4 linked regions of the Homo sapiens genome follow. The protein of the gene in region 3 interacts with the protein of the main gene of each other region in a pairwise test. Each region holds a gene or a part of one and is shown on either strand. Other genes may lie near its edges. The genes, in order: MCRIP1, TRIM3, DNMT1 and RPS6KA6.

Region 1 (7,497 bases), on a different chromosome or scaffold from region 3:
TCCAGCCTGGGCGACAGAGCAAGACTCCATCTCAAAAAAAAAAAAAAAAAAAAGGCCAGGCGTGGTGGCTCACGCCTGTAATCCCAGCACTTTGGGAGGCCGAGGCGGGTGGATCACAAGGTCAGGAGTTCAAGACCAGCCTGGCCAATATGGTGAAACCCTGTCTCTACTAAAAATACAAAAATTAGCTGGATGTGGTGGTGGGCACCTGTGGTCCCAGCTACTCAGGAGGCTGAGGCAGGAGAAGTGCTTGAACCTGGGAGGCGGAGGTTGCAGTGAGCCGAGATCGTGCCACTGCACTCCAGCTTGGGCGACAGAGCAAGACTCCGTCTAAAAGAAAAAAAAAAAAAGCCAGGTACGGTTGCTGGCCTATTAAAATAGGCCTGTAATCCCAACACTTTGGGAGGCTAAAGAGGGCAGATCACTTGAGCCCAAGAGTTCAAAACCAGCCTGGGCAACATGGCAAAATCCCATTTCTTTTATTTATTTATTTATTTATTTATTTGAGATGGAGTCTCGCTCTGCTGCCCAGGCTGGAGTGCAGTGGCGCCATCTTGGCTCACTGCAAGCTCCGCCTCCCGGGTTCACGCCATTCTCCCGCCTCAGCCTCCCAAGTGGCTGGGACTACAGAAGCCCGCCACCACGCCCAGCTAATTTTTTGTATTATTAGTAGAGACGGGATTTCGTCCTGTTAGCCAGGATGGTCTCGATCTCCTGACCTTGTGATCCACCCACCTGGGCCTCCCAAAGTGCTGGGATTACAGTCGTGAGCCACCACGCCCGGCCGGCAAAATCCCATTTCTACAAAAATATAAAAACTTTGGCAGGAGTGATGGCTGAGGTGGTAGGATTGCTTGAGCTTGGGAGGTGGAGGCTGTGGTGAGCCATGATCATACCACTGCACTCCAGCCTGGGTGACAGAGGGAGACTCTGTCTCTAAGTAAATAAATTTAAAACCCCATAAATATATACACCTATTGTGCACCCATACATTTTTTTTTTTTTTTTTTTTTTGAGATGGAGTCTCGCTCTGTCGTCCAGGGTGGAGTGCAGTGGCGCGATCTTGGCTCACTGCAAGCTCCGCCTCCCGGGTTGACGCCATTCTCCTGCCTCAGCCTCTCGAGTCGCTGGGACTATAGGCGCCCGCCACCACGCCCAGCTAATTTTTTCTATTTTTAGTGGAGATGGGGTTTCACTGTGTTAGTCAGGATGGTCTCGATCTCCTGACCTCGTGATCCATCTGCTTCGGCCTCCCAAAGTGCTGAGATTACAGGTGTGAGCTACCACACCCAGCTGCACCCATACAGTTTTTTAAGTCAACAAGGAGTCTCGTTTGCCTCCTCTTGTTAGGAAAAGAAATGTACCCACACCCTCAATACCACAGGCTGTGTCCTCTAAGTCTTCCCAGACACGAAGAGCCCTTCCCACCTCTCCCTACTTCTTCCTCCAGCTTAGGGACCCCCAGGGCCTCACACTGCCCCCCCACCCCCCGACCCTGCACACATAGCCCCAGGCTTTCCTGGATGTGCCAGCAGTTCCAAGAGGCCAGGGGCCTGCTGTCCCCCTGGAAGCACAATAAACGGTTCTGCAGCTCATTCAGCCTCACTGCCTCCTGGGGCCCTGCCAAGGAGCTGGGTGCCCAATTCTGACCCAGAAGGAATTTTCCATTAAAAATCAAGTATCTGTGCACAACCTATGACCCAGCCATTCTGCTCCTAGGTACACACACCCAAGATGCGTACAAGGACAGCTGGAGAATTTCACTCGTAATTACCCAAAGGGAAGAGCCACCGCAGAAGGGTAGCAATGCACACCTGGCCTATTCCCATAAGGGAATCAGCAGCCAGAGGGGGCACCACAGCCCCCACGCAGAGACGGACACCAAGCACAAGAGCAGGACCTGAGGGGCCACAGACAGGCCCTGGGACACATGGAATGGGAGGAAGCTGCAGAGGGCCGAGGCATGGACATAACTGGAGCCGGGGCCAGGACGGTGCCTGTGAGGGCAGGAAGGAGCCATCCACGGAGAGGGCTGGAGGTCAAGCAAGCTCTGAACCAAGAGGTCACCATGGAGCCACAATAAGGCCTCCAACAACCTCAGCGGGGCGGCCTAGCATAGTGAGGCACACAGCTGAGGGGGGAGGGCAGGAAGTGTGGCTGGCAGGCAGCTCAGCCCTAGCTCAGGCCTGGTGGGCAGCAGGCTGGTGTCTGGCTAAGCAGAGGGAACCCTGAGGCACAACATCCATGCATGGGGTCCCTGAGGTGGTGGATGTGGAGGGACCCAGGACCATAGTGGGTGAGAGTGAGCAGGGGACAATGGCACAGGCCCAGAGAAGCGCCGGGGGCAGCCGGAAAAGACCCAGCACACGGCAGACGGCCACCTGAGGTGGCAGCCCCTGAGCCAGCAGGAGACTGACACCTCAGCTGCCCAGGTAAAGGGGAGTGGCGGCCTGACCGAGGCCGACCACAGGTGAAGGGTGGGAGGGAGGGGCTCCATTCAGCCCAGAGAGACAGCCCCACTTCAGAGGTCTCGAGACCCCATCCAGCCCGGCCCCCTGCCTTCATCCCACCTGGGCCACCACCAGGGTGACAGCAGTAAGGGAGGGTCAGGCGATGCCTCGGTCCCGTTTTCCTTCCCTCTTTCTGTCAGAATCAAGACCGAGCATGCCGATGTCCCGGCCACGGCCCCGTACTCCTCAGTCGCTACACCACACCCCACTGCCTCTGAGAGTTTTCTTTCATAGTTTTCATATTTTAACATCTTTGAAACTGGGCTGCGCCTGACAATTGCTAACACGTCAGAATTTAACCAATGGTGGTTTTTATTTCTCAATGTACTGTAAAATATAGCGCAGCTCACAATGGCTGGGGTCTCACATGGGAGGACCCTCGATGACACTCTCCTGGCCCAGGACCACCCTTCCAGAGCCCCTCAGGCTACATGGTCTTTAGGTGTTTTCTCCCCTTCCCCTCAAAGTCTTCCACATCCCACGCCACCCCACCCCACCCAGTGCTGGGACAACCTCCAGTTCCAGACACCCAGCATCAGGACAGGTGGACACAGATGTCTACATGATCTTCCTGAAACCCTATCCCCAAGTCACTTAGCACTAGGGTGTCACCCAGGCCCTCTGCTGCCATCAAGCCCACTGTCCAGTCCCAACTTGTTTTACCAGGTGTCACCTGCTGCTCCACTCCTGCCCCAACAGCCTTTGCCACAGGACTACCTGCCACCAGCCACACAGAGCACAGGCCACCTGCAAGTCTGTGCATTCTGCAGGACGTGACTGCCTGCTTCCGTGGCCGTCCAGCCTACAGGGCCTGGCCTACTGGGCTGCAGGTATTCCCCTGCTCTGGGGCCCCGGGCAAGCTCCTCTGAGCCTCAGCATCCTCATTCAAAGTGATGCAGCCCACAGGTAGGCTCGCCTGCTCCAATAGGGACGGAAGCACAGCCATGGAAAGCCAGCAGCTCAGTGAGGTCTCTGTGGCTCCTTATCCAATACGATGATGGACAGGACAAGCATGTGCTGTATGGTTCAACTGGATGCTGTTAAGAATGAAAGGGGCTGGGGCCAGGCGTGGTGGCTCACGCCTGTAATCCCAGCACGTTGGGAGGCTGAGGTGGGCAGATCACCTAAGGTCAGGAGTTCGAGACCAGCCTGGCCAGCATGGTGAAACCCCGTCTCTACTAAAAATACAAAAAGTAGCCAGGCGTGGTGGCAGTCGCCTGTAATCCCAGCTACTCAGGAGGCTGCGGCAGGAGAATCGCTTGAACCCGGGAGGCAGAGGTTGCAGTGAGCCAAGATCACGCCATTGCACTCCAGCTTGGGGGACAAGAGTGAGACTTCATCTCAAAAAAAGAAAAAAGAAAGGGGCTAGATGTGGTGGTAATCCTAGCACTTTGGGAGGTCAGGAGTTCAAGACTGGCCTGGGCAACATAGAAAGAGCCCCATCTCGACCAGGTGCGGTGACTCACGCCTGTAATCCTGGCACTCTGGGAGGCTGAGGTGGGCAGATCATAGGAGGTCAGGAGTTTGAGACCAGCCTGGGCAACATGGCAAAACCCCATTGCTACTAAAAAAAAAAAATACAAAAATTAGGCCAGGCGCAGTGGCTCATGCCTGTAATCCCAGCACTTTGGGAGGCCAAGGTGGAAGGATCATCTGAGGTCAGGAGTTCGAGACCAGCCTGGCCAACATACAGTGAAACCCCATCTCTACTAAAAAAAAATACAAAAATTAGCTGGGCGTGGTGGCACATGCCTGTAGTCCCAGCTACTTGGGAAGCTAAGGCAGGAGAATCGCTTGAACCCAGGAAGCAAAGGTTACAGTGAGCCGAGATTGTGCCACTGCACTCCAGCCTGGGCAACAGAGCAAGACTCTGTCTCTCAAAAAAAAAAAAAAAAATTAGCCAGGCATGGTGGTATGCACCTGTAATTCCAGCTTCTCAGGAGTCTGAGGCAGGAGAATCGCTTTATACCCAGGAGGCGCAGGTTGCAGTGAGCAGAGACCATGTCACTGCACTCCAGCTTGGGAAACAGAGACAGAGCAAGACTCTATCTCAAAACAAACAACAAACAAACAAACAAAAAAGGGCCCCATCTCTGCTCTCTGCCCTCAAAAAAAAAAAAAAAAAAAAAGAACGAAAGGGATGCTGTTGATTATCAAGAATGAAACAACTCTTCTGGGTAAACTGGAATGTAGAGTCAGCCCACTCTTAGGAAGGTGGAGGCCCAGAAAAGCACTGGGGACTGAAAGAAGAGACTGCCACCAGCCACAGCAAACACTTGTCGGGCTAAGGGCAGGGCAGCCACCACGCTGGGCCCTTACACACATTGCCCACATCCCCACAGCTGGACCAGAAAGATACCCTGAGAACTTCCAGTTCAGCGCTGAAGGAGCCTGCCACCAAGCAGCGGTGCCCCTCCCAGGGCCTCCGGGGCCACAGCATTTGGGGCTCAGCCCGAATGCTGCAGCTGGCCTGAGCCTCCCAAAGTCTGCCTCCACTCTGCCTGCACCCTACAGCAGGTTTCTGGACTCCCTGAAAGACCCACTCCCTACTGATACCCATGTGGCTTTGCTCAGAGACTGGCCCTCCCTCCAGATAGGGAGGGGAGTCGCATTGGGTAGAACTATGTAGAACCTTCCTCCTCCAGGGGACCCAAGGGCTTTAGAGACTTCCAGGTGGGGAGGGGACAGAACCCCAGTCTCTGGCCTCCCAGTCCCAAATTCTTTCCCCCACACAGCCACATGCCTAAGAACAGGCCATGAGGTAACACTCCAGCAACGTGACAATAGTGAGGTTCCAGAGTTAGAATCAGTGACGCCATCGCTAGTCACCATGCTCCTCCGGAGTTTCTGAGATTCAAAGTTTCTAAGACTCCACTTTCTCTTCGTGTTCTGTGTCTTTTTCAGCCAACGAGGCTAGAAAATGATCTATTGCCCAAGCAGGCGCACGAGGATACGGCTGTCACAGCTGCCACACTGGCACCTCGTGGTCCCTTGAAGACCGCCCAGGGAAAGCCTCTAAGCGCTGCACCACCTCCTCACCCTCTCCCCTGGGTGGTGGCAGCAACAGCCTGAGCGTGTGCGCCCTCCTCCCCATCCTGATCCCACTCAAACCACAACCTCCCCTGACTCGCCCCAAATCCAGCCCTGTTGGCTCTTCCTTCACGTCCCACTTCCCACCCTCTCTACACGTTCTCGCCACATCCCACCCAAAGTCCACTCACTGGTCCCTGTTTACACCTCAGGGCCTTTGGTCAAGCTGTCTTCTCTGCCCAAAACTATCCTACTCATCCTTGGGGATCCAGCTGAAAGACCACCTTCCTGCGACGGCTACCCAGGGGCAGGAGGGAGAGAAGCACAGCCCGTGCCCCGTATGGCTCCCGCCCCCGCGGTCACAACCACCGCCCAGTGAGTGCCTAGAAGGCAGGCGGAGGCCCCGTTCTCCCCGTTAGGCCCAGCATCACCGCCCGGGGAGACGGGAAAGAGGGCAAGGCCGAAAAATGGACAGAAAAAGAATGCGGACGGCCGGGCCCGCGGCGCTCCGAGAATCGGAGGCATCCTCAGGCACGGTCCCTCCAGGAGACCGGGAAAGCGGGGCTCTGTCAGCCCCAAAGCCCCGACGGCGGCAGAAGGCTGGCCCGCTGCGAGCGTCCGGCGGCGCTGGGTCCCCGGCACCTGCCCCTGCCTGGGCGGGAAAGGCGCTCAGTCCGAGCCGCGCCCTCCCCACGCGCGCTCCCAGGCGCCCCGCGGGCCGCGCCCTCCTGCAGGTGCCGGGCGGGGAACGCGGGCCCCTCCCTCGGACCCCGGCTGCCCGGCCACTCCCCCGCGCCCGGCCCCGCCCGGCCCTGCAGGGCACCCGCGGCCGCGCGGCGACACCAGGGCGGGGCCCAGCCGCGCCCGCCCCGCCCCGCCCCGTCCCCGCCGCCCGGCGCCGCACCCGCCTCACCTCGCCCCGACCCGCCGCCACCGCCTCTTCCAGCTGGGAGGCCCCGCCGGAAGTGACGCCACCGCGGGCTGCACAGGCGCAGGCGCAGCGCGCTCTCACGTGACCGCCCGGCTGGCGGAGGGCGGGGGCGGCCGGGATTCCCGTGCGGGGTTGGGGCTCGTGGCGGAAGCTCCGGACCTCCCTGGCCCGAACGGTGAGCGCCGCCGGCCACTGGGAGCGGCCAGAGCCCAGTAATCAGGACACCACCACAGGGACCACGTGTGTAGACCCAGGCCCCCTCACCTGGGAGTCACGTTTATTGAAAAAGTAAAAAGTGTCACAGTAAAAAATTCACCTGGGGACAAAGCCAGGCCTAGGAGGGGTGGCGGGGTCGTGGAGGGACGGGTCCGGCCGCCCCTGGCCCACGGGTGGGGCACGTGCTGGCCCATGGGCGACGCGCGGCTTCTCCAGGGAGGCGGCCCTGGGCGCGGGGGCGGGCGGGCAAAGCTGGCTCAGTCCATCGTGGTCCCTTTGAAGAGCTCCACCAGCTCCTTGTAGTCCGGGTCGATGAGGTCGGAGGGCAGGTCGCCATCGTCGTTGGTTGCATCCCTGTCCGCTCCCAGGGAGATAAGGTACCTGGGGTGTAAAGGTCGCTCTGGCTGAAGCGGGGAGGAGCCAGGAGAGTGCTCGCCCCAACCCGGGTCAGAGGGCCAGAGTCCTGGGGTCACCTGTGTGTCCCCCACCTTGGGGTCCTAAGGTCCGGGTAGGGTGAGGAGGAAGAAACCTGACCCTTTGGAAGCTGTGGCCAGCTTTTCAAGTTGGTTCTATTGAGGACAAAGGCAGAAACAGGATTCCAGAAGCCTCTAGGGTTTGCAGGGTTCTTTTTTTGTTTTTTTTGTTTTTTGAGACAGAATTTCGCTCTTATCACCCAGGCTGGAGTGCAATGGCATGATCTCGACTCACGGCAACCTCCACTTCCCGGGTTCAAGTGATTCTCCTGCCTCAGCCTTGAGTAGCTGGGATTACAGGCGCGCGCCACCACGCGTGGCTAATTTTGTATTTTTA
Region 2 (7,497 bases), on a different chromosome or scaffold from region 3:
GTGTGCACACAGGCTCACCTTTCACAGGTGTTTACAAATGCTTCTCATAGGAATGTGCAACTAGGCACCCCCTGCCCAACTTCTTTAACTCATTAACACTACTGTCTACTCTTGCCAAATTTATGCCAAGCCCTGGGGACAAAAAGATAAAGCACAGTGCCTACCCTTAAAATACTTCCCATCTACAGAGAAAAAAGTCACAGGAATAGTACAGAAGTAAATAGCATGATGATTAAGGGAATGGGTCCTGGAGCTAGGCTGCCCAGGCCCAACACCCCGTTGGTCACCTGTTATACTGTATGACCCCTGACAAGTTACATAACTTTGACAAGCCAAGGACTCTTCCTTTGTAAGATGGAGAAGTACAGACTTCACAGAGTGTTAGAGGATTACATGTAAAGTACTTACTTATATTTGAAGAGGATTAAATGTAAAATGCCTGACTCATAATAGCACTATATATGGTAGGCTACTTGTATTACTTATTATTAATATAAGGAATGATAGAAAGTGATAAGGAAATGCATCTGGCTCAAGCAGGTGGAGAGGGTGTCCAGGAAAGTCTTCAGAGAGTTGATGCAAACTAAATCTTCAAGGATAAATAATTGTTAGCCTGACCAAAGAATGGTGCAGGCAGAGGGGGAAGGGTAGTCCAGATACAGAAGGCAGCAAGAAGCAGCATAGTATGAATAAGCAACTGTAAGCAGTTTGATGTGGCTGGCTAGAGACAAAGTCCAAGGCAAGGAATGGTGACAGAAGTCAAGGAGCTTAGAAGTTATCCTGCCAGCAATAGGAAGCTGCAAGAGAGTGGTATAGCCAGGTTTATATTTTACCAAGCTCCTCTTCACCCCCTCTGTGTGGGGAGTGAATTTAAAGGGAATGAGACAGCAGATGGGGTTGGGGGGCGAGGGCAGTGGCATCACCAGCTAGTTACCATTTATTAAGTGCATATGTGCCAGGTGCCATGCTTTCTGATTACGTTTCTGTTAGCAGGAGAAAGGGCAAGTGGCCCAAGGTAACAACAGCAGTAGGTGCTGAAGCCTGTCTTCAAATGCAAAGTATGTGCTTAGCCAGCATACTCTTACAATCATCTAGGTAGGAAGTGAAGAAGACCTGGATTTAGGCAATAGTAATGTAGACTATGAGGTGGAAATAAATTTGAGAAGTGTTTAAGAAGGAGGGAAGGTGGGAGGTGTTGTCTGATTAGATATGGGGAGCAAGAGAGATGATGAGTCTTCGCTGACTTCCAAATTCCTAGCTTTGATAACTGAGTGGATAGTGGTGACATTCACTAAGATGAGAAACATAGAAAGAGGAGTAGCTATAGGAAAGTTCAGCCTTGTCCTGGTTGAATTTACTGTAACAATAAACACCCAGGTTGAGGTCACCAGTAGACAGGAGAATGAAGGTTAGAGACAAGAGATGGGCATGCCATCAACATTTAGATGGCTTCGGTAGCACTGGGAGAGGATGAGATCAGACAAGAAAGCATAGACAGTGATAAGAGAGAGGGACAGAGCACTTAGCAAAAACTGAATGAGGACAACAAAGAAGACCAGGCCGAGAGGCAGGAAGAGCAGCTGTGTTAGGGCAGAAAACTGAGTGGTACATTTCCAGGAGGGAATGAGTAGTCATCAGCGTTAAAAGCAGCTGACGAGTTGGGTAAGGTAAGGACAGGAAAATGTCCACTGAATTTGGCAAATGTGAGGGTACTTTGTCTGTAGGGAAAACAGGGAGGGAGTGGCAGGAGAAGGAAAGCTTGACTGCTGGAAGTTGAGTGAAGGGGAGCTTGAAAGTTCCAATGAGGAGCTGGTTGAGGGGTTGGATGGTGCTAGAAAGAGTTTTTACCTGTTTGGCATGGGAGTTTTGAGCATGTTTATGAATGGAGGAGTCAGGAGAGAAGGAGAGGGGGAAGAGACTACAAAACTGAGAGGAGAAGATCTTGAGGATTGGGGAGTGCCTCGGATTGGCCTGAAGAGGAGGACTGGACGTCAGTCTCTGAATGGAGGGAAGGAGGAAAGGAGAGGAGGATATAGAGAGGCACTAGGGACATAGGAGAGTGAAGGATGGAGGATTCAGGGGCCTGATGATGGCTCAGATTAGTCAGTGATGGGAGAGCAGAGGACACTTACTAGAAACAGACATCAGAACTGAAGGCAGCTGTATTTGGGGACCTCAAATTTGTGGAGTGAAGATCTGCATTATGCAAACTCTCCCATATCCTCAATCTCAACTCTTAATGTTTCCTATAACTTAGGATCTTAATTAAAATCTGACAAACACTATGTGCCAGGCATGATTCTAAGTGCTTCACAAGTATTAACTTATTTAATTGTGTTTTCTTTGTTTTTGTTTTTTTGGTGGCTTTTTTTTTTTTTTTTTTTTTTTTTGAGACGGAGTCCTGCTCTGTCACCCAGGTGTGAGTGCAGTAGCACAATCTTGGCTCACTGCAACCTCCACCTCCCGGGTTCAAGCGATTCTCTTGCCTCAGCCTCCCGAGCAGCTGGGATTATAGGCTCACACCATCACGCCTGGCTAATTTTTGTATTTTTAGTAGAGATGGGGTTTTGTCATGTTGGCCAGGCTGGTCTCAAACTCCTGACCTCAGGTGATCTGCCCGTCTCGGCCTCCCAAAGTGCTGGGATTACAGGCATGAGCCACCATGCCCAGTGTAACTTATTTAATTGTGACTTACTTTTCCTTGCAGTCCTCTCAAGTAGAGTGGTTTCTGTCTCATACTCCACACTCCTTAGGGCCAGAAGGTGGGCTTGAGCCCTCCCTCTTCCCAACTGGAACATTTCTGAACTATTCAACTCTAGCTCCTTTGAAGCTCATGCCTTCTATCTCTATCACTCCTCCTTATTGTTGTCTCTGCTAACCTAATGGTTGCCCCCACTTCCAATTGTGGACATCTTTCTCTTGGCTCACTCTCTTCTTCCATTACCCCCCGCACCACTCTGCCATCATTCTCAGTGGCACTAACATCCATCCCCCATTGTGATTTCTTAATTCCTTGACCTTCTCACCCCCAGTGATCTTTTCCCCCATTTCCCATGCTCCCACTAACACCCACTTCTCATCAACTATCACTGCATTTCAACCATTCTACTCTATTCTTCAGCAGCTTTCTTCCAAGCTCACTGAATCTAGTGTTTCCCCATGCAAAACACCTTCTAATTCAGCAATATCCCCTTCCTATTTGTCAAGTGTACCTGGCTCACGATAGCTTCCTAACTGGTCTCTGTTTCCACTCTTGCTCCTTTATAATCCATTCTCTCCATAACAGCTAGGGTGAACTTTTTACATTACATTATTTCCCTGTATATATATATTTTTAAAAACTCCAATGGTTTCCCATTGCACTTAAAATAAAATCCAAACACTTTCTGAAAACCTACAAGCTCCCCCTTAAACTGCCCTTATTCTCTCCAATTTCACCTCATCCCACTTTACTCCTCACTTGGCCACACTGGTTTCTTTTCTGGTATCTGAACATGTCCTGTCTACTTCTTCCTCAAGGCCTTTGCACAGATTTTTCTATTGCCTGGAACAATCTGTCTCCTTCTTATCCTCAGAACTCAGGTCAAATGTCACCTCCTCAGGGAAGCCTTCCTTGATGACTATATAGAATAGTTCTTGCCCCAAACACCCCTACTTCTCTCTGTTTATATCCTGTAAAACATTAATACAAGCTGCAGCTCTCGTTTTCTTGATTGCTTACTGTCAGTCACTGCCCACTAGAACATCCTCTGAGAGCAGGGACCAAGGGATACATGAATGAATACTAGTTGACAGTGAAGGCTCTGCAGTGAAAACTGGATTCAGATCTCAGCTATTTACTTACTGTGTAGCCTTGGAAATATTTCTTTTTTTTTATTTGTTTATTTAATTTAAGATAGAGCCTCTCTCTGTCACCCAGGCTAGAGTGCAGTGATGTGATCATGGCTCACTGCAGCCTCCACCTCCCAGGCTCAAATGATCCTCCCACCTCAGCCTCCCGATTAGCTAGAACTACAGGTGCATGCCACCACACCCAGCTAATTTTTAAATTCTTTTTTAGAGACTGCATCTCACTATGTTGTTTCCCAAGCTACTCTGGAACTCCTAGGCTCAAGTGATCCTCCCACCTTGGCCTCCCAAAGTGCTGGGATTACAGGCATGAGCAACTGCACCTGGCCAGAGATATTTCTTAATTATTTACTGACTTTGAACCTTAGTTTCCTCCTCTCTAATATGGGGATACCTGGGTGTGGTAGCCTGCACCTGTAATCCCAGCTACTCAGGAGGCTGAGGCAGGAGGATCACTTGAGCCCAGGAGTTCAAGTCCAGTTTGGGCAATATAGCAAGACACTCATCTCTAAAAAAAAAATAAAATTTAAAAAATTGAAACAAGCTGGGCACGGTGACTCACGCCTGGAATCCCAGAACTTTGGGAGGCTGAGGCGGGCAGATCACAAGGTCAGGAGTTCGAGACCAGCCTGGCCAACATGGTGAAACCCCATCTCTACTAAAAATGCAAAAATTAACCGGATGTGGTGGCGTGCGCCTGTAGTCCCAGCTACTTGGGAGGCTGAGGCAGGAGAATCACTTGAACCCAGGAGGCAGAGATTGCAGTGAGCCAAGATGGCGCCACTGCACTCCAGCCTGGGTGACAGAGAGAGACTCTGTCTCAAAAAAACAAAAACAAAAACAAAAAACAAACCAAAAAAAATTAAAATGAAAAGTTACATTAAAAAATTAAAATAAAAAAATAAAATGAAGTTAATAAAGTATCTGTTGCAGGGATTAAGGAAATCAGTATGTATAAATCACTTAGCCAGTCCCTGGCAAACAGTAAGCAATCAATACATGGTAGCTACTGTTATTACAATTTCTCAGCCAGATTTTCTCCAGGAGTGCTCAGTGATCTGGGCACAGGAGAAAGTGCAGAGACATCCAATTTCAGCTCTGATCCAACATTGAGCTTCTATTGCATGGGTTTTGCAAAGGATAAAGATGTGAAGGAACTGCAGGGGAGCCAGTCGGTCAGCCACAGGGTCCAGGATGGGCAGGAAAGACAGGGAGGCCAGGACGCAGCTGGTGACTGGGAAAAGAGGGAGCAGTCAAAGGGGCTAGATATCTATATTGTATCGAAAGTGGTGTAATGGGAGTGGGGTAACGGGAGCCAGGAGTGGAACGTTGGCGTTTATGACTACAGATAAGATTCTGGATTATAAGATTCAGGGCATGGTTGGGAGGGAGTGTTACTGAGGTGGAATGGGGGACAACCCTGAAGAAACAGTTAAGAACCAACAGGCACAAGAGGGTGGTTGTCCCCAGGCTGACAGAAGAACTTGAATGGACAGGAAAACTGAGGCCATTTCCAGTTGATAAAGGAGAGTGGGCAGTGGAGCTGGAATCTCAAAGAGCAGGGCTGGCAGGGAAGCAGTATCTCTGGTGCAGAGCCAGGTTTCCGTTGGGGCAGAAGGCAGAGGAAAAGTGCGGATAGAGGCAGTGGTGGTGAGAAGACCTAGGGACCAGGCCACCCAAGACAGAACAATGAGAGATAAGGGCCCAAGAGAATATTGTCAAAATACAGATGTGATCACATATAAAACCCTGCAAAGGCTTCATGTGGCTCTCAGGGTAAAGGTGAAATTCCCTAACAGGTCTACAAAGCCCTAGGTGGTCTGGCCTCCACCTACCTCTCCAGCTTCATCCCATAATACTCTCAGTCACACTCACTCTGCTCTAGCCCTACCAGGCTTCCTCCAGGCCTCTTACCTGACATATTTTCTCATGTCACATGAGCTTTTCCAATGGTCTTTCTTCTGTGCAGAATGCTCTTCCAACCCCCTTTACCTAGTTAACTCCTATTCATCCTCTGAATTGCTCCTCAGGGAAACCTTCCCTGATTCTCCAAACTATAACAGATTCCATATGCCAATCTCTCATAGCTCAGCACTTTATTTGCAGCACTTACTAAAAGTTATATTTATCTATAATCTGGCTATATGATTATTTGATGACTATCTTTCTCTTTCACTATACTGTTAGCTCTTTAAGAGTAAGCATTGTAAGTGATGGATACCTTAAATACCCTACTTGATTGTTACCCATTCTATGCTTGTGTAACAATGTATCACATGTTCCCCATAAATATGTAAACTATTGTGTATCAGTTTTTAAAAAGAGTAAGCACGGTAGCTCACGCCTGTAATCCCAGCACTTTGGGAGGCCGAGGTAGGCGGATTGCCTGAGTTCAGGAGTTCAAGAACAGCCTGAGCAACACGGTGAAACCCCATCTGTAATAAAATACAAAAAGTTAGCTGGGCGTGGCGGCGTGCGCCTGTAGTCCCAGCTACTCCGGAGGCTGAGGCAGGAGAATTGGTTGAACCTGGGAGGCAGAGGTTGCAGTGAGCCGAGATCGTGCCACTACACTCCACCTTGGGCAACAGAGCGAGACTCCATCTCAAAAAAAAAAAAAAAAAAAAAAAAAGAGTAAGGATCTTATCTGTTTTTGCTCATCACTGCATACCCAATGCCTAGAACAGGGTCTGGCACATAGTAGTTGCTCAATAAATGAATATTTGTTAAATGAATAAGTGATCCATAGAAGCCTAGAGGCTGGGACAGGTTGCCTTTCACTCAGTACCTGAGGACAACAAGGACAAGCAGGGAAGGACAGACCTAACTTCAAATATCCTCCAACTAGTCATAAATTGCTGATGCCAAAGCTGGTTGAGTCTGAGCACTGTTTGATTTCTTAGGTGGTGTCAAAAGCTGCCTTGAGGTTTGGGAAAGGACAGAGAAGGCCCTATTCTTGACAGGAACCATGGCCCAGTGTTATGGTTCTTATGGTTCTCTCACAGGTTCTTGCCCTCAAAACCTCATTTCCTGCAGGTTGGGGTTCACCTGCTCTCCTCCCAGGTAAGCATGTTGCCTCACCTACTACAGGTTTACACATGCTCCCTCACCCTCCCCACAGGGGAGGAGGATCCTCATCCTCCCCACAGGGTCCTCATCCCTCCCCAGTACACACATCCCCTCACCTCTCACAGAAGGTGTGCAGGCAAGGAAGAACCTTGGGGCACTGGTACCGATCCAGGCAGATGCTGCATACCAGGAACTGCTTGTCCATTGGCTGGACCTCTGGGCCAGGGCTGTCCTCCCTCTTTGCCATGGCGCCCACAGATGGCTCCCGCCACTCACACCAGCCTCTGTATGGAGAGATGGTCAGCACCAGGGAGTCCAGAACTTCTTCTCCCCACCCAATCCCCGCCACTCAAATCCCCTGCAGAGAACTTGCCCCCACCTCTTCCCTGCTAGGGGCAAGACAGGGCAGTGACTGGAAGGATCAGGGTGATGTGACCTCTGAGCCTGGTGTTCTGTTTAAGAGCACAGACGTAGGATTAGATTGGGTTTCAAACCTGGCTCAGTCTCTCACCAGCTATGTGAGCTTGGACAATCCATGTAACTTCTCTGAGCCTCAGTCTCTTAATTTGTAATTACAGGAAT
Region 3 (7,497 bases):
CTCCGTGTTGGTCAGGCTGGTTTCGAACTCCCGACCTCAGGCGATCCACCTGCCTCAGCCTCCCAAAGTGCTGGGATTACAGGCATGAGCCATCATGCCCAGCCTGTATATTTTAAAAGGTACCAGAGACCAGGCATGGTGGCTCACGCTTATAATCCCAGCACTTTGGGAGGCCAAGGCGAGCGGATCACTTGAGCCCAGGCGTTCAGACCAGCCTGGGAAACATGGCGAAACTCCATCTCTACAAAAATACAAAAATTAGTGGCTGGGCGTGGTGGCTGATGCCTGGAATCCCAACATACAGCAGCAGTTGGGTGGATTACCTGAGGGCCAAGGTGGGTGGATTACCTGAGGTCAAGGGTTTGAGACCAGCCTGGCCAACATGGCGAAACCCCATCTCTACTAAAAATACAAAAATTAGCCAGGCGTGGTGGTGGGTGGCTGTAATCCCAGCAACTTGGGAGGCTGAGGCAGGAGAATCACTTGAACCCGGGAGGCAGAGGTTGCAGTGAGCTGGTCACACCATTGCACTCTAGCCTGGGCAACAAGAGTGAAACTCTGTCTCAAAATAAAATAAAATAAAATAAAATAAAAATAACTGGGTTTGGTGGCATGTGCTTGTGGTCCCAGTTACTTGGGAGGCTGAGGAAGGAAGATCACCTGAGCCTGGGAGGTCGAGGCCACAGTGAGCCGTGATTGCATCACTGCACTCCAATCTAGGAGACAGAGTGAGACCCTGACTCAAAAAGATACCAGGAAAGAGGGGGCAGGTCATATAGTTGGGGCACTCCCGTAAGGGAAATGACCTACAGCTGGTCTTTCTCCAGTTGGGTCTGACAACAGCCCATAACAAGGTGTGCCACAGTATGGCCAGTGTCAGAATGAGTAGCCCAGGGCCACAGGACACTGTGGGGAACAGCCAGCTGATGTTCCTAAAGGCCTGGTGGGGGGTGGTGGCATTTTGAGGATGAAATGGGGGAGTCAAGCATCCAGGGAAGCAAGGGGTACCCACACAGAGGGCAGATAGAGGTGAAGTTAGAGGAGGTGGCTGGCGCCTCCCCGAATAACTCATTCTTCAGGATGTCTCTAGCTAGTCATTCCTAAATGTAGAACTGCCAGGAGTTTGCCTGGGAAATCGTGGTCTGATTTGATTACTGACAATTAGTAGCTTGACTCTTTCAGGGACAAAGAGGGAAAAAAATAAAAGAACAATAGCCGGTGCAGTGCCGCGGTGCTGCGTGCCTGTAACCCCAGCTACTCAGGAGGCTGTGGTGGGAGGATGGCTTGTGGGCAGGAGTTCGAGTCCAGCCTGGACAACATAGGGCGATCCTATCTCTTCAGAAAAAAATAAAGGAACAAGAAGAGAAGGTACCAAGGAAAGGGAGAGGAACACAGGCTGTTGTTCCCAGCCTGGGTGCTAACTACAGACTGCGGGGTGAGAACAGGCCTAACCAGCTGGGTAAGTGTCTGTTGGTGGAGAGAAGGTGCCCCAGGCAGGGACCAGGCCACTGCCATCTCTGGACCTTTCCACCTAGCACCCGCACAGACAGGTGCTCAGTTATCATTTGCCTGAAGGGCAGAAGTGGCTCCTCCAGGCTGGCCTTCCTAGAGGGTAAGTGCAGGCAGCAGCATGAGGAATGCTTTGCTGGACCCATGTCTTACAACAGCTGCTCTGGGTCATGCGGGCCCTGATTCCCCACCAGCGCCGCTCACATATGAGCACCTGCTGAATGCCAGGCCCTGCTCCAGGCAAAGAGCTAAGTGATTAGATGTAGGTGTCACTAGGCAGGGACTTCCTGACTTGCTGTGTGGTTAGGAAAGACCATTCTGTAGGGCCGGGCACGGTGGCTCACGCCTGTAATCCCAGCACTTTGGAAGGCTGAGGTGGGCGGATCATGAGGTCAGGAGATGGAGACCATCCTGGCTAACACAGTGAAACCCCGCCTCTACTAAAAATACAAAAAATTAGCCAGGCGTGGTGGTGGGCGCCTGTAGTCCCAGCTACTCAGGAGGCTGAGGCAGAAGAATGGCGTGAACCCGGGAGGTGAAGCTTGCAGTGAGCCAAGATCATGCCACTGCACTCCAGCCTGGGCAACAGAGCAAAACTCTGTCTCAAAAAAAAAAAAAAAAGACTGCTCTGTAGAAGAGACACTTAGCACCCTACAAACACAGTGGTAATATAGACTGTATATTATATATACTGTATCACTTGGACTCAAGGTGCTACAAGGCCAGGCAAGACGCAGTGGCTCATGCCTGTAATCCCAGCACCTTGGGAGGCCAAGGCAGGAGGATCACTTGAGGTCAGGAGTTTGAGACCAGCCTGGGCTACACTGAGAGATCCCATCTCTACAAAAAAAATGTAAAAATTAGCTGGGTGTGGTTAGTGTGCACCTGTGGTACCAGCTACTTGGGAGGCTGAGGTGGGAGGATCGCTTGAGCCTGGGAGGTTGAGGCTGCAGTGAGTTATGATGGTACCACTGCAATCCAGCCTGTTCAGCCTGGGCAACAGAACAAGACCCTGTCTCAAAAGAAAAAAAAAAAAAAAAAAAGATGCTTTGACATCAGGATTTCCAGGAGCACAAGGAACCTCTTCCAGGCAAAAGTCATTCTACCCTTGTAGCAACTGGGGTCCAAGGAGAGCCTTAAGTCAGGAGGGCTACAGAAACTGGTACTTCCAGCCAGAGGCACACACGCTGTGGTAATAGCGTTACACTTGACTTCTCAGTCACGCCGCTGAGAAAACTGGAAGGACATGGCTTCTACCTCGACCAAGCCAGCCAGTCCCCTGATCCCGAGGTTGCCTGGGGTGTGAAGGACAAGGTTCAACTGATTGCGGAGACCAAGGTGTCCTTGCAGAATGGGTCTGCTTTCTTTCAACCCCTCATATGAACTGGGATATTTAGCCTGGCAAAGAGAATAGAGAAACCTTCAAAACCCCTAGAATGTTTCATCCAGTAGAAACTGGATTTAACCTGCCTGGCCCCAGAGTGGCAGGTGGGATCCCAGGCAGGCAGTGAGGAGCTGGCGGGAGGGTAACTTTAGCGACATCCCTTCCCTGGTAAAACTGTGATGACACCGATCACACCTGCTGAAGCCAGGAGGGTCGCAGACAGCCGTGAAGGACGGAGCAGAGGACTCAGAATGCCGGCTTAGTGCCCAGCCTGAGACCCTATGATTCCTTCCTAGTGCTTCCCTCAGAGATGAACCCTCTGCAGAGGGGAGATAAGATATATATAAACAGCTGGCCAGGCACGGTGGCTCATGCCTGTAATCCCAGCACTTTGGGAGGCCGAGGCGGGCGGATCACCTGAGGTCAGGAGTTCGAGACCAGCCTGACCAACATGAAGAAACTTCGTCTTTACTAAAAATCCAGAATCAGCCAGGCATGGTGGCACATGCCTATAATCCCAGCTACTCAGGAGGCTGAGGCAGGAGAATCGCTTGAACCCGGGAGGTGGAGGCTGCGGTGAGCCAAGGTCACGTCATTGCACTCCAGCCTGGACAACAAGAGTGAAACTCCGTCTCAAAAAAAAAAAAAAAAAAAAAGATATATATAAACAACCACAGAGGAATAAGGCAAATACAGCTCACGCCTGCGGGATTCCCAAGAGAAAGGGTATAACAGCCTCAGGAAGAAGTTGACAGCTCTGTGTGAACCGGGCACAGGAAGCTGCTCAAACAGGGGCACCATTGAGAAGTGGCTGGTTCTGGAAACACACAAGAAACAAACGTGAGACTGGCCACATACAGGGAGGGAAAGGCACCTCCAGAGAGGTGGCTGGGGACAGTCGGAGGGAGGGCAAAAGCATCACACTTATCCATCTTGTTCCATAGTTAACAAACACCAAAGCAGTCAAGGGGAAGTAGAACCAATGACATCAGAGCCGTGTTAAGAAAACTAACCCAGCAGAGGTATCTAGTATAGATTGGATAGGAAGAAATTATAAAATGTTAGATTACTCTAACACCTCTACGCCAGAAATGCTCGTCTGAAATACAGCAGACCATGGCTGGGCGCAGTGGCTCATGCCTGTAATCTCTACACTCGGGAAGCCAGGACAGGAAGATCACTTGAGCCCAGGAATTCGAGACTAGCCTGGGCAACAGAGCGAGACCCTGTCTCTACAAGAAAGAATAATTAGCTGGCTGTGGTAGCATGCACCTATAGTCTTAGCTACTCGGGAGGCAGAGGCGGGAGGATCACTAGAGCTCAGGAATTTGTGACCAGCCTGGGCAATACAGTGAGACCCTGTCTCTACGAGAAAACAGTAATTAGCTGGGTATGACAGCACGCACCTGTACTCCTAGCTGCTCAGGAGGCCGAGGCGGAAGGATCACTAGAGCCCAGGAATTTGAGACCAGCCTGGGCAACACAGCGAGAACCTGTCTCTACAAAAAATAGTAATTAGCTGGGTGTGGTGGCATGCACCTATAGTCTTAGCTACTCAGGAGGCTGAGGCGGGAGGATCACTAGAGCCCAGGAATTCAAGACCAGCCTGAGCAACACAGCGAGACCCTGTCTCTACAAAAAATAGTAATTAGTAATTAGCTGGGTGTGCTAGCATGTGCCTATAGGCCTAGCTACTCGGGAAGCCAAAGCGGGAGGATCAATAGAGCTCAGGAATTCAAGACCAGCCTGGGCAACACAGCAGAGACCCTGCCTAAACAAAAAATAGTAATTAGCTTGGTGTGGCAGCATGCACCTGTGGTCCTAGCTACTCAGGAGACTGAGGCAGGAGGATCACTAGAGCCCAGTGAGCTATAATTGTGCCGCTGCATTCCAGCCTGGGTGACACAGCAAGACCTTGTCTCTAAAAATAAAATATAGTGGACCATGCAAGACAAGTTACAAGTCTCTGTCAAACCAGCTTCTTCAGGCCGGCTGCATGGCAGCTGGAGCAGGGCTGCCCAAGAAGGCATCCGCAGTAGGCAAAAGAGTAGACCCACTGGGCACAGTGGCTCATGCCTGTAATCCCAGCACTTTGGGAGGCTGAAGCGGGTAGATCACCTGAGCTCAGGAGTTCAAGACCAGCCTGGGAAACATGGCAAAACCCCATCTCTACTAAAAATACAAAAATTAACCGGGCTTGGTGGCTCACGCCTGTAATCCCAGCTACTCAAGAGGCTGAGGCACAAGAATCATTTGAACCCAGGAAGCAGAAGTTGCAGTGAGCCGAGATCATGCCACTGCACTCCAGCCTGGGTGACAGAGCGAGACTCCATCTCAAAAAGAGTGGACCCACCGAAAAATGTTCATGCCCTAATCCCTGGAACCTGTGAATATATTACTTTACGTGGCCAAAGCGATTTTGCAGATGTAACTAAGAATACAGACCTTGAGATGGGGAGATTATCCTGGATTATCTGGGGTGGGCCCAATCTAATCACTTCAGCCCTTAAGAACACAGAACCTTTCTAGCTGCAGAGAGCGGGCAACGTTGGAGGACGGGTCAGAGAGAGATGCAACCCGCAAATGCTGACTTTAAAGGTAGAGGAAGGGGGCATGAGCCGAGGGATGAGACCGCCTCCAGAAGCGGGCAACGACCCTCAGTTTAGAACCAGTGAAGAAAATGGGACCTGAGTCTTACAACTACCACCTTCTGCCAACACCCCAAAATAGGAAACAGATTCTCCCCTGGAGCCCCCAGAAAGGAATGCAGCCTGCTTACACCTTGATTTTCATCCGGTGAAACCCACATCAGATTTCTGACCTGCATAAGGTAATAAATGTATGTCCTTTAAGCCGGCAAGTTTGAGGCAAGACCCTCCACCTGCAAAAAGATTATGAATCGCTGAAGACTCAGATGATTTTTTTTTTTTTTTTGAGACGGAGTCTCGCTCTGTTGCCCAGGCTGGAGTTCAGTGGCATGATCTCGGCTCACTGCAACCTCCGCCTCCCAAGTTCAAGCAATTTTCCTGCCTCAGCCTCCCATGGAGCTGGGACTATAGGCGTGTGCCACCATGCCTGGCTAATTTTTTTTGTATTTTTAGTAGAGACGGGGTTTCACCGTGTTAGCCAGGATGGTCTCGATCTCCTGACCTCGTGATCTGCCCACCTTGGCCTCCCAAAGTGCTGGGATTACAGGCGTGAGCCACCACGCCCAGCTGATTTTTTTTTTTTTTTGAGACAGAGTCTCACTCCTTCACCCAGGCTGGAGTGCAGTGGCACAATCATGGCAAACTGCAGCCTCGACCTCATGGGTTCAAGTGATCCTCCCACCTCTGCCTCCCGAGTAGCTGGGACCCCAGGTGCATGCCACCACTTTTGGCTTTATTTTTTTTTTTGAGATGGGGGGGGTCTTCCTATGTTGCCCAGACTAGTCTTGAACTCCTTGGCTCAAGCGATCCTCCTGCCTTGGCCTCCCAAACTGCTGGGATTACAGGCATGAGCCACTGCACACGGCCTAGTCTAATAACTTTTACACATACTAGGAAACCAAAATGTGTGTGTGACTCACTTTCTTGCTAGATTCACTTTACTGCAGTGGTCTGGAACCAAACCCACAGCATCCCCACTGTACACACAGTACCACGTAATAACCAGTGATGAAGGGCTTTGGACAGGTGCTGCTCTCAACATATCTGTACTGATAAGCTCAGTCTTCCTAACACCCCTGTCGAGCAGGCAGCCCCACCCCCTTTTTATAGATGAAACACCAAGGCACCAAGAAGTTCAATAACTTAGCCATACGGCTGGCAAGTAGGGCGGCATTTGAAACCCAGCAGTCTGTACCCCTAGAATTCTACCACAGGGGAGCAAAACAAAAGAGGTAAGTCAATTTTGCCTTATTCAGTATGTACTCAGTAGTAGCCAAGGAACTGGAGTTAAGGAGTTCAAGACCTAGCTTAATCCCATCACAGAATGACTAGCAGTAAGAAAGCTGTGGTAGTTACGAAAGCTAATCAGTTGTGCAAAGGAGTCTGCTAGCATCAGTGTTAATCCAGGCTGTACAGGGGAAGAGCTGGCATGCAAGCATTTGAGTCTACTGTGCTCCAAGCTGCAGATACAGTGAATACGGCAGACACGCTCTGGTAACAGACCCTGAAATAATCACTAATTTCAGTGTTATAATGGCACCATGCGGGATACACCGACAAAATTCAACACTCTTTATTGTGGAGAAGCAAGCCTAGCTGTCTGAGAGCAGGCTTAAGAATGAATTAAAAGGCCAGGCACGGTGGCTCATGCCTGTAATCCCAACACTTTGCGGGGCTGAGGCAGGCGAATCACTTGAGTCCAGGAGTTCAACACCAGCCTGGCCAACACGGTAAACCCCGGTTTCTACTAAAAATAAGAAAAAGTTAGCCGGGCGTGGTGGCACATGCCTGTAATCCCAGCTACTCAGGAGGCTAAGGCAGGAGAATCACTTGAACCCGGGAGGGGGAGGTTGCAGTGAGCCAAGTTCGCACCACTGCACTCCAGCCTGGGCGACAGCACAAGACTCTGTCTCAAAAATAAAATAAAATAAAATAAAATAAAATAAAATAAAATAA
Region 4 (7,497 bases), on a different chromosome or scaffold from region 3:
CAACCCAACTTGAACAATTTCAAAAAATTTGAAAAGACAACTCATCAGAGAATATATACGGATGGCAAATAAGCATATGAAAATATGCTTAGCAACATGTGTCATTAGGGAAATGCAAGTTAAAATCACAATTAGATACCCCTACACTCCAATTAGAATAGCTATTTTTTTTCACTTAATCTGACAAGACTAAGTGCTGGCAAGTACTCAGAGCAGCTGGAATTCTCACGCAGCAACCTCACTCCTAAGTGTTTACCCAATATAAGTGAAAAGTTATGTCCAAACCGAAATTTTCATACAAATGTGTATAATGGCTTTATTCATAATCACCAAACACTGGTAACAACCCAAATCCAAATGTCCTTCAACTTATTAATGAACAAATCAACTGTGGTACATTCACATAACAGACTAGTGCACAGCAATAAAAAAGAAAGAACTACTGATACACATAATATCATGAATAAAGACCAAATAAAATCAAATTAATATTGTTCATAGATATGAAGTTGCTGAATGACCATGTCTTTTTTGAAAATCCGTATTGACTGACCTCCCTTAAGAGATTCTATAAGTATTCACTTATTCCAATGTAATTGCTCTACAAATGATAAACACAATAAATGTTTTATGATTGTGCCAGAAGGTCTAGAGTTACTCTTCTCCATCTGTAAAATAAAGTACAAAATCATACACAAATTATCTTATATATGTTCTATCATTCTTGTATATGTCTCTATAATCAACATATGGTTTTCTGCATATGCCCATTAAGTTTGAAATGTAATTGTTTCCAACAGCATTCATTCATCACTGCATCTACTCCAGGTGAACAATCATGAATGCAAAATATTTTTATCAAATCAGACCTAATGGCTTATCTATTTCCCTTAATTTTGAATTTTGACTATTCTCAATTAGTACAATTTCTTTAACACATACACCAAACCTCTCTCATTTTAAGAAAAACTAAAAGTCATTTGAAACCTGACATTCAGTCCACATTTCCCCTCATATGACGTTTTTCTCCTTTGTTTTCTGAAGTTCTGTCCACTCTGATCCTTTAAGTAGAGTAATAAATCCCTATACCTCAACTCTTATCAAGCTTATGATTTTTAGGATAATTCATGTTCCATTTTCACTTATGTCTTAATGACTAATTTCAACTGTAGTAACTGAAAATAGCAAAAATGTTTTATGTAATAATTTCCCCAGAATCTTCAGAAAGAAAGTGCAAATTTCAAGTTCTGCCTTTTTGAAAAAGGTAGCAACTTTCCCCCTAAAATTTCCTCAGATTTTAAAAGCTGATCTTGTTCTTTATTTTTTTATTTTTTTGCATTTTTTCTCAAAATTCAGTTGAGTGTATTTGTGTGGCTCTATTTCTGTGTACTCTATTCTGGTCTACTGATCTACGTGTCTATTCTTCCACCAATACCACATTGTCTTTATTATAGTTACATAGTAAAACGTAATATCCAATAGAGTAATTCCTTATTTTATTTTTCTTTTTCAAAATTGTTTTAGAGCTTCTAGGTCTTGTACTTTTACATATACATTTTAGAACATGCTTGTCTGTTTACAAAACAAAACAAAACAAAAAAACAGACTTGCTGGGATTTTGTTGACATTTATTTAACTTAAATAGACAGGCATGGCTATTGAATCAGCACATCTGACTGCTGATCTAATATGGTTGCTAACAACGTATCTATATTCTCTCCTTATTTTCAATATTGTCCTTAGGGGGGAGATAGCAATGTATAGAGGAAAAAGCATGAATTTAAAATAATCTAGGTTCAAATTCCAGACGTATTTCCTACTAACTTGCATGTATCTTTCTATTCTGTTAAAAAGACATAACTGTCTTACCAAGATGTTTTGAAGAATGAATAAAACTGAGATAATCTATGATGCATCTAGTACTAGCTGGTACATAGTTCATGCTCAATAAACGCTATTATCTCTTTCTCCCTTAAGATTCGATACCTTTAAATGGAATGGATTCCAACGTTTTTTCAGGTTAAAAAATTTGTATTGGGTGTTTAAATTGCTATATTTCCTCTTAAAGTTTGTCTTCAATCACTTTACAGGAGAGGCAGAGGGATTTCTTAGTAATAATTACCCATGGGTTTTGAAATTTTTTGTTAGAGATGTAATGGGATATTTGTCATTCAAAACAGAGTCACTATCTCCTTACTCAGCTAGTAAAATGGGTGAACAAGTTATTTAACCTCTTAGTTATATGGCTGAACTATATCAAAACTAGCTACGGTACTAAATTTTGTTTTTAATGCTACTGGAAAAGCAAATTCCTCAAAACTAAAGAGCAAGAACATACAGGGCAGTTCAAACAACCCAATTTGGCTCCAGTCATATCTTAAAACAACAACAAAATAAAACACACAGAAAAATATCACAATTCACAGATAATTTACTGCAGAGCTAATTGCTAGCTTACAAATTAATATTCTTTTTTTCCTATTGAATAATGACAACTACGTGACTATTTCTTTTTTTACTTTGGCCTAGAGCTGTGGTTTTTAACCCTGGCTGTGCATCATAAGCATCTGGGGAATAGATGCCCAGGCCCCCTCTAGATTAGTTAAATGTGAATCTCTGAGTGGAACACTGGCATGGATAATTTTTTTACACTCCCAGGTAAATATAACACACAGCCAGAGTTGAGAAAAACCAGCTAAGAAAACTCAAGGCCAAATTTATAATTCAACTATATTTTAAACATGTCATAGACCCTTACAGCCTGCTTATTTGTGCTCTATTTTACCCTTCATCCCCTACCCTCCACCCTTTTCATATATCTCCTACTTTGTTTTCCCTTATCCTCAATATCAAAATAGTTATCAGATTATATTTCCCATATACCATCTCAAATGCTTGGTAAAATGAAGCAAATCACAAGTAACACACATGCACTCTACTCCACCTTCCCTCTTTCTCTGTCTCTCTCTCTCTCTCTCTCTCTCTCTCACACACACACACACACACACACACACACGTGCACACAAAACTACAGCAGGACCTGTTTCTAATGTAGAGATACAGATTAAAATCTAGCAGTGAAATCAGTTACAGAATGTCTCCAGGGCAATTTAGAAAACGTCTCTTATCTGCAAAAGCCAGATTTAGCTCAGCTCTCTAAATCTCTCTCCCATCTAACTCCTTTCCTACCTAAAAACAAACAAAAATAAAGAAAATACACAACAAAAAAAAATATTGGCAGCAACAGTAAATAATCCTTGGAAATAACATAAATGAATAAACATTACATAGCAAATTCTGACAAAGTACTGAAAGGCTTATACCTCAAGATTCCAAGTGCTTATCAAATCTTAAGAACCGCTGCTACATACAATGATAGCACCAAGAAAGAAATTACAGGAAGGGAAAAAAATCTTGCATTTCCTCATCAAAATTCTAGATGAGAGAGACTATGAGAGGGTAGGTACTAAAACAATATGGCCCAGAAAAGCAACTACACTATCAGTAGGCCTTATCATGGAACACAGAGGTAATGATTAGCTCTCTTGATGAACTAATCAAGGTAGGGAAATATAGAGGACCTGCCCTGAAGGAACTGACCTGAATATTTCCAGATCAGACTGGCTTAAAGAAAGATTGACTTGGAGGAACTGAGAAGGCACCTGTGGCAGGGAGGGGCCACTGCCCTCTGACTCCTCCCCGCTTGTCTATTCCAAATAAACCTGGTGAAAGCATAGAAAAAATACAGATGTCCCTGCTCTCCTTCCACATTCCAGAAATAAGTACTGGTCATTATTTTCAGAATAGGACTCTGTACTCACGGCTGCTGACTACTGAAGATGAACATTGGTGAAACAAGAATTACAGGCCTAAGGCCCATTTAAAAAGAATTAAAAATGTTTTAGCTAGTAATAAGTGTATTCACCTTTGGTAGTAAAGAATTTAAGCATTCTAAGCACGATCAGAAACCTTCAGAGTGGAATGCTATTATTCAATACAATATTAGAAAGGGGAGATTTCATTTTAGCTTTCTATCTCCCTATACTGCAAAGATCTATTTATTTTTATATTAGTCTGGTGGCTAATACAGAGACTTATATTGGCAGGTATGCATTAAATACCTGTTACATTGAATTAATTCCTACCAGGACGCTTCTAATCTCAATTGTTTGTTATTTCTTTTTACTCTCCAACATCTAATCAGTTACCAAATTGTAACTATTCTACCTCTGCCAGGTCTCTCCCATCAGTCATCTCTTTTCTACCCCTTCTGTACTAGTTCAAAAATCTCACTACTACTTCCACTAACACAATAGCCTCCTAGCTGGAATTCCCCACCTTCCATATCTCCCCCATTCCTCACTACCGTCAATTATTTTTCAAAGCACAAATCTAATAATGTCACTCATGTCCTCAAAAACCTTCAGTGGCTCCTATTTATGAGATAAAATTGAACCCTTAAACTGGCTTAAAAAGTCCCATTCAACCTGGGCCTAGCTTACCTTTAATACATTCCTTATCTCTCACTATATCCCCTCTCCCACATCACAGACTTACAACAGTATCAGATTCTTCCTTCTTTCAGAACATTTCCATGCCTTTTCTTATATTGTGCCCATCCACGTGAAATATGCTCCTTTCATCTGTCTGTGAAAATATTATCACTTTCTAATGCCCTGCTCAAATTCCACCTCCTTCACAAAGCCTTACCAGATCCATTCCTAAACCACCACCACCCCCACCACCACCACCACCACCCCATTGTTGATAATCTTGTGCCTTTTACAATAACAATTTCCATACATGCCTGTCTTACTACCTGAATGTAAACCTGTGGGGGTAGGGTGGGACTCTGTGGTATATTTTTAGGCATTTCACATTACAGCACTATGTACAGCACTGCCTTGTACTCAATAAATGCTTCATGAATTGAACCAATTCCTACCATGACAAGAGTTCAGAATTTTTTTAAAAAATTAAAAATTTCAATGAAACACCTCATCAGCCAGATATAATAAATGAAATTATCTGTCTCTTCTTATCCTTCCACTGTTTCTAAATATAACTTTGTATTTTATCTCTGGATCACCCTATCTGTGATTACAAACATTCACAGTGAGAGCACCACTATACTTAGATGAAATGATCAAATTTAGGAAGGGGTCTTAAGAAAAACTGCTTACGAAATGGAAGGCTGCGGCTAAGGCCATGGTTATCTGAATCCCAGGATTTTAACATAGATGACAATAGTTCAGACTTTAGGGGCATGGGAAGAGGCATGATGACTGTGGGAAAAGAGAAGGAACTATTGTGTACTAGAGACTAAGTGCAAAACATCTTGCTAAGTTTATTAAACCCAGCACTGAATTTTCTTTACATAACAACTCTTGAAGATGTTTTTTCTCCAACTTATAGACAAAGAAAGTGAGGTTCAGAGAGGTTAGGTAACGTGGATTGTGTCACATCATGAGTATGGCATGGAGCTCGGACAAGAACCCAGATTTACCTGCCTTCAAAGCTGTTCTTTCCTCTATTACTATAGGGTCTCATGAAAATTAATTAAAACTAGAAGTTTTTCCCAAATTGGTTTTATCAGTAAACTACATACTCTCAAAACTAATTTGTTTAGACAGGCATGGTTGTGAGCACCTGTAGTCCCAGCTACTCGGGAACCTGAGGCATGAGGATTGTTTGAGTCCAGGAGTTCGAGGCCAGCCTGGACAATGTACAATGACATAGAAAGACCCTGACTCAAAAAAAAAAAAAAAAAAAAAAAACTAACTTGCTTAAATAAAAACAGCATTGCTAAAGAAATAATATAAAAGTACTACACGTTTACTATGATATGAAATGTGAAAATTACATCATCAACTTGATAAAGAAGCACTTGGTTCCTCACCAAAAAACAAACAACTAAGCGAACAAACTGTAACATGCATGGCATTAAATCATGAAAAGTTCACATTAGTCAAACAGGTTGTTCTTTATGATCCTTGCCCAGGAATGACCAATACCCATCCCATCTCAAGTAAAACCTCTTTCTTGATCCTGACAGAATCCAGTCAAAAGCTTAAATTGTGACTGCGTGAGGGGTGATGCCCTTTGAAGTTCCTATTCCCAGTAGACCTCATTGAGACAGTCCCTGCAAGAGCTCTCACAATCAGTTTCTTGCTTACCCTATTTCCCCTCTTCTAAGAACTCTCTTCCCAGAAACCAAAAGATTCCAGGTTTCCCCTTTTCAGGCCCATTCTCTACCTCTCACTGGAACCAAGCTAGTTATTGGTTGAAACCTGACACATTTCACCACAGAACAATTTTACAAACAGTGGTTAGGCTCGGCATCATTATACCTCGCTATTATGTACTGATCTAAAAATATAAGTACCCTTAATAAGTTTTTCCTGTGGGAAAACATGTTAAGAGTCTCAAACAACCAATTTACACACTTCTGAATGATAATTCAAAGGTTAACAACTGTCCATGCAAGCAAGACAGGTAAAAGATACAAAAAGACTCCAAAATATATGGTAGTGTCTATAATCTTTAATCTTACCAGATTCAACACACACAGAAATGGACGGAAATTATTTCTTTTGACATTAAAGTTAACAGATTCTTACCTACATTTTCTTTAAGGATTCTAGCACATTTTAAAAATATATATTCTACAACAAAAACACTCTTAGTCCTAAAATTATCACAATTGAGGGTTGTAGAGCTTGTACTCAAAATTAGCATTTTTAAAGCCAACATCAACAAATTTGTAATTAAAATATAAATTATCAAAAGTAAACTTGTTTACTTCTTATCAAAAGAATATAATTAAAAACAAACAAACTCTTCTAAGTACTAAGTGGGTCTGTTCAAATGTAGCATTTAGTTTTCACCTATAATATTTTTTATTAAGTAACTTGCAGGGTTAAATCTAACCAATCATAACTGTTTTAGAGAAAGAAGGCAGAAATACTATCTTCACCACATTACCTTCACCTTTCGTTTTACTTCATAGGGATTAACAATTTCCACTCGAGTATTTTTCCAAATTGCTGAGGTAGAGAGACCCATTGTTAAATCTCTACAATACCTAAAACATACTGCAAACAATAAAAAAACCATATGTGGTAATTACAATTTAAAACATACTACATTCAAAGTTAACAGAAATAATAAAATAGTAGGCATGCAAAAGGATTCCCACCTCCCATCCCATCCTTATATCAAAGCATTTAACTGTTTTTATAAACTAAATGCCTATAAGTTCAGTAAGTTACATACATGAATATAACAAAGTTCCTCTCCCCTTCAATAGACTTGCTAGACAATTGTGCAAACAGTTAGCATTCCCACATTTCAACAAGAAAGGAACGCCTATTCATTTATCTTGTTCTTACGAGATGTAAAATATTAAAACGTATATTGGAATTGCTTGGTTTACTAGTAAAATATTTCCTGTAAGTATAGAGGGTTCAGATTTAGGGTACTTCTGAATTTATTTCC

What was found.
Region 1: the proteins of DNMT1 (region 3) and MCRIP1 interact in a two-hybrid assay, tested with the Homo sapiens proteins (one large-scale study listed by BioGRID and IntAct).
Region 2: the proteins of DNMT1 (region 3) and TRIM3 interact in a two-hybrid assay, tested with the Homo sapiens proteins (one large-scale study listed by BioGRID and IntAct).
Region 4: the proteins of DNMT1 (region 3) and RPS6KA6 interact in a two-hybrid assay, tested with the Homo sapiens proteins (one large-scale study listed by BioGRID and IntAct).

What each region holds. Positions count from the first base shown.
Region 1 is NC_000017.11:81,826,785-81,834,281, forward strand, and holds the start of MCRIP1 (mapk-regulated corepressor-interacting protein 1), read right to left. Parts: upstream 6,508-7,497; 5' UTR 6,454-6,507; intron 1-6,453. Other genes in the region: PPP1R27 (protein phosphatase 1 regulatory subunit 27), read right to left, coding at 6,945-7,068. UniProt on the Homo sapiens protein: The phosphorylation status of MCRIP1 functions as a molecular switch to regulate epithelial-mesenchymal transition. Unphosphorylated MCRIP1 binds to and inhibits the transcriptional corepressor CTBP(s).
Region 2 is NC_000011.10:6,458,534-6,466,030, forward strand, and holds part of TRIM3 (tripartite motif-containing protein 3), read right to left. Parts: intron 7,200-7,497; coding exon of another isoform or gene 7,163-7,199; coding exon 7,032-7,162; intron 1-7,031.
Region 3 is NC_000019.10:10,183,311-10,190,807, forward strand, and holds part of DNMT1 (DNA (cytosine-5)-methyltransferase 1), read right to left. Parts: intron 1-7,497. UniProt on the Homo sapiens protein: Methylates CpG residues. Preferentially methylates hemimethylated DNA. Associates with DNA replication sites in S phase maintaining the methylation pattern in the newly synthesized strand, that is essential for epigenetic inheritance.
Region 4 is NC_000023.11:84,179,077-84,186,573, forward strand, and holds part of RPS6KA6 (ribosomal protein S6 kinase alpha-6), read right to left. Parts: exon of another isoform or gene 7,117-7,497; coding exon of another isoform or gene 6,985-7,116; intron 1-6,984. UniProt on the Homo sapiens protein: Constitutively active serine/threonine-protein kinase that exhibits growth-factor-independent kinase activity and that may participate in p53/TP53-dependent cell growth arrest signaling and play an inhibitory role during embryogenesis.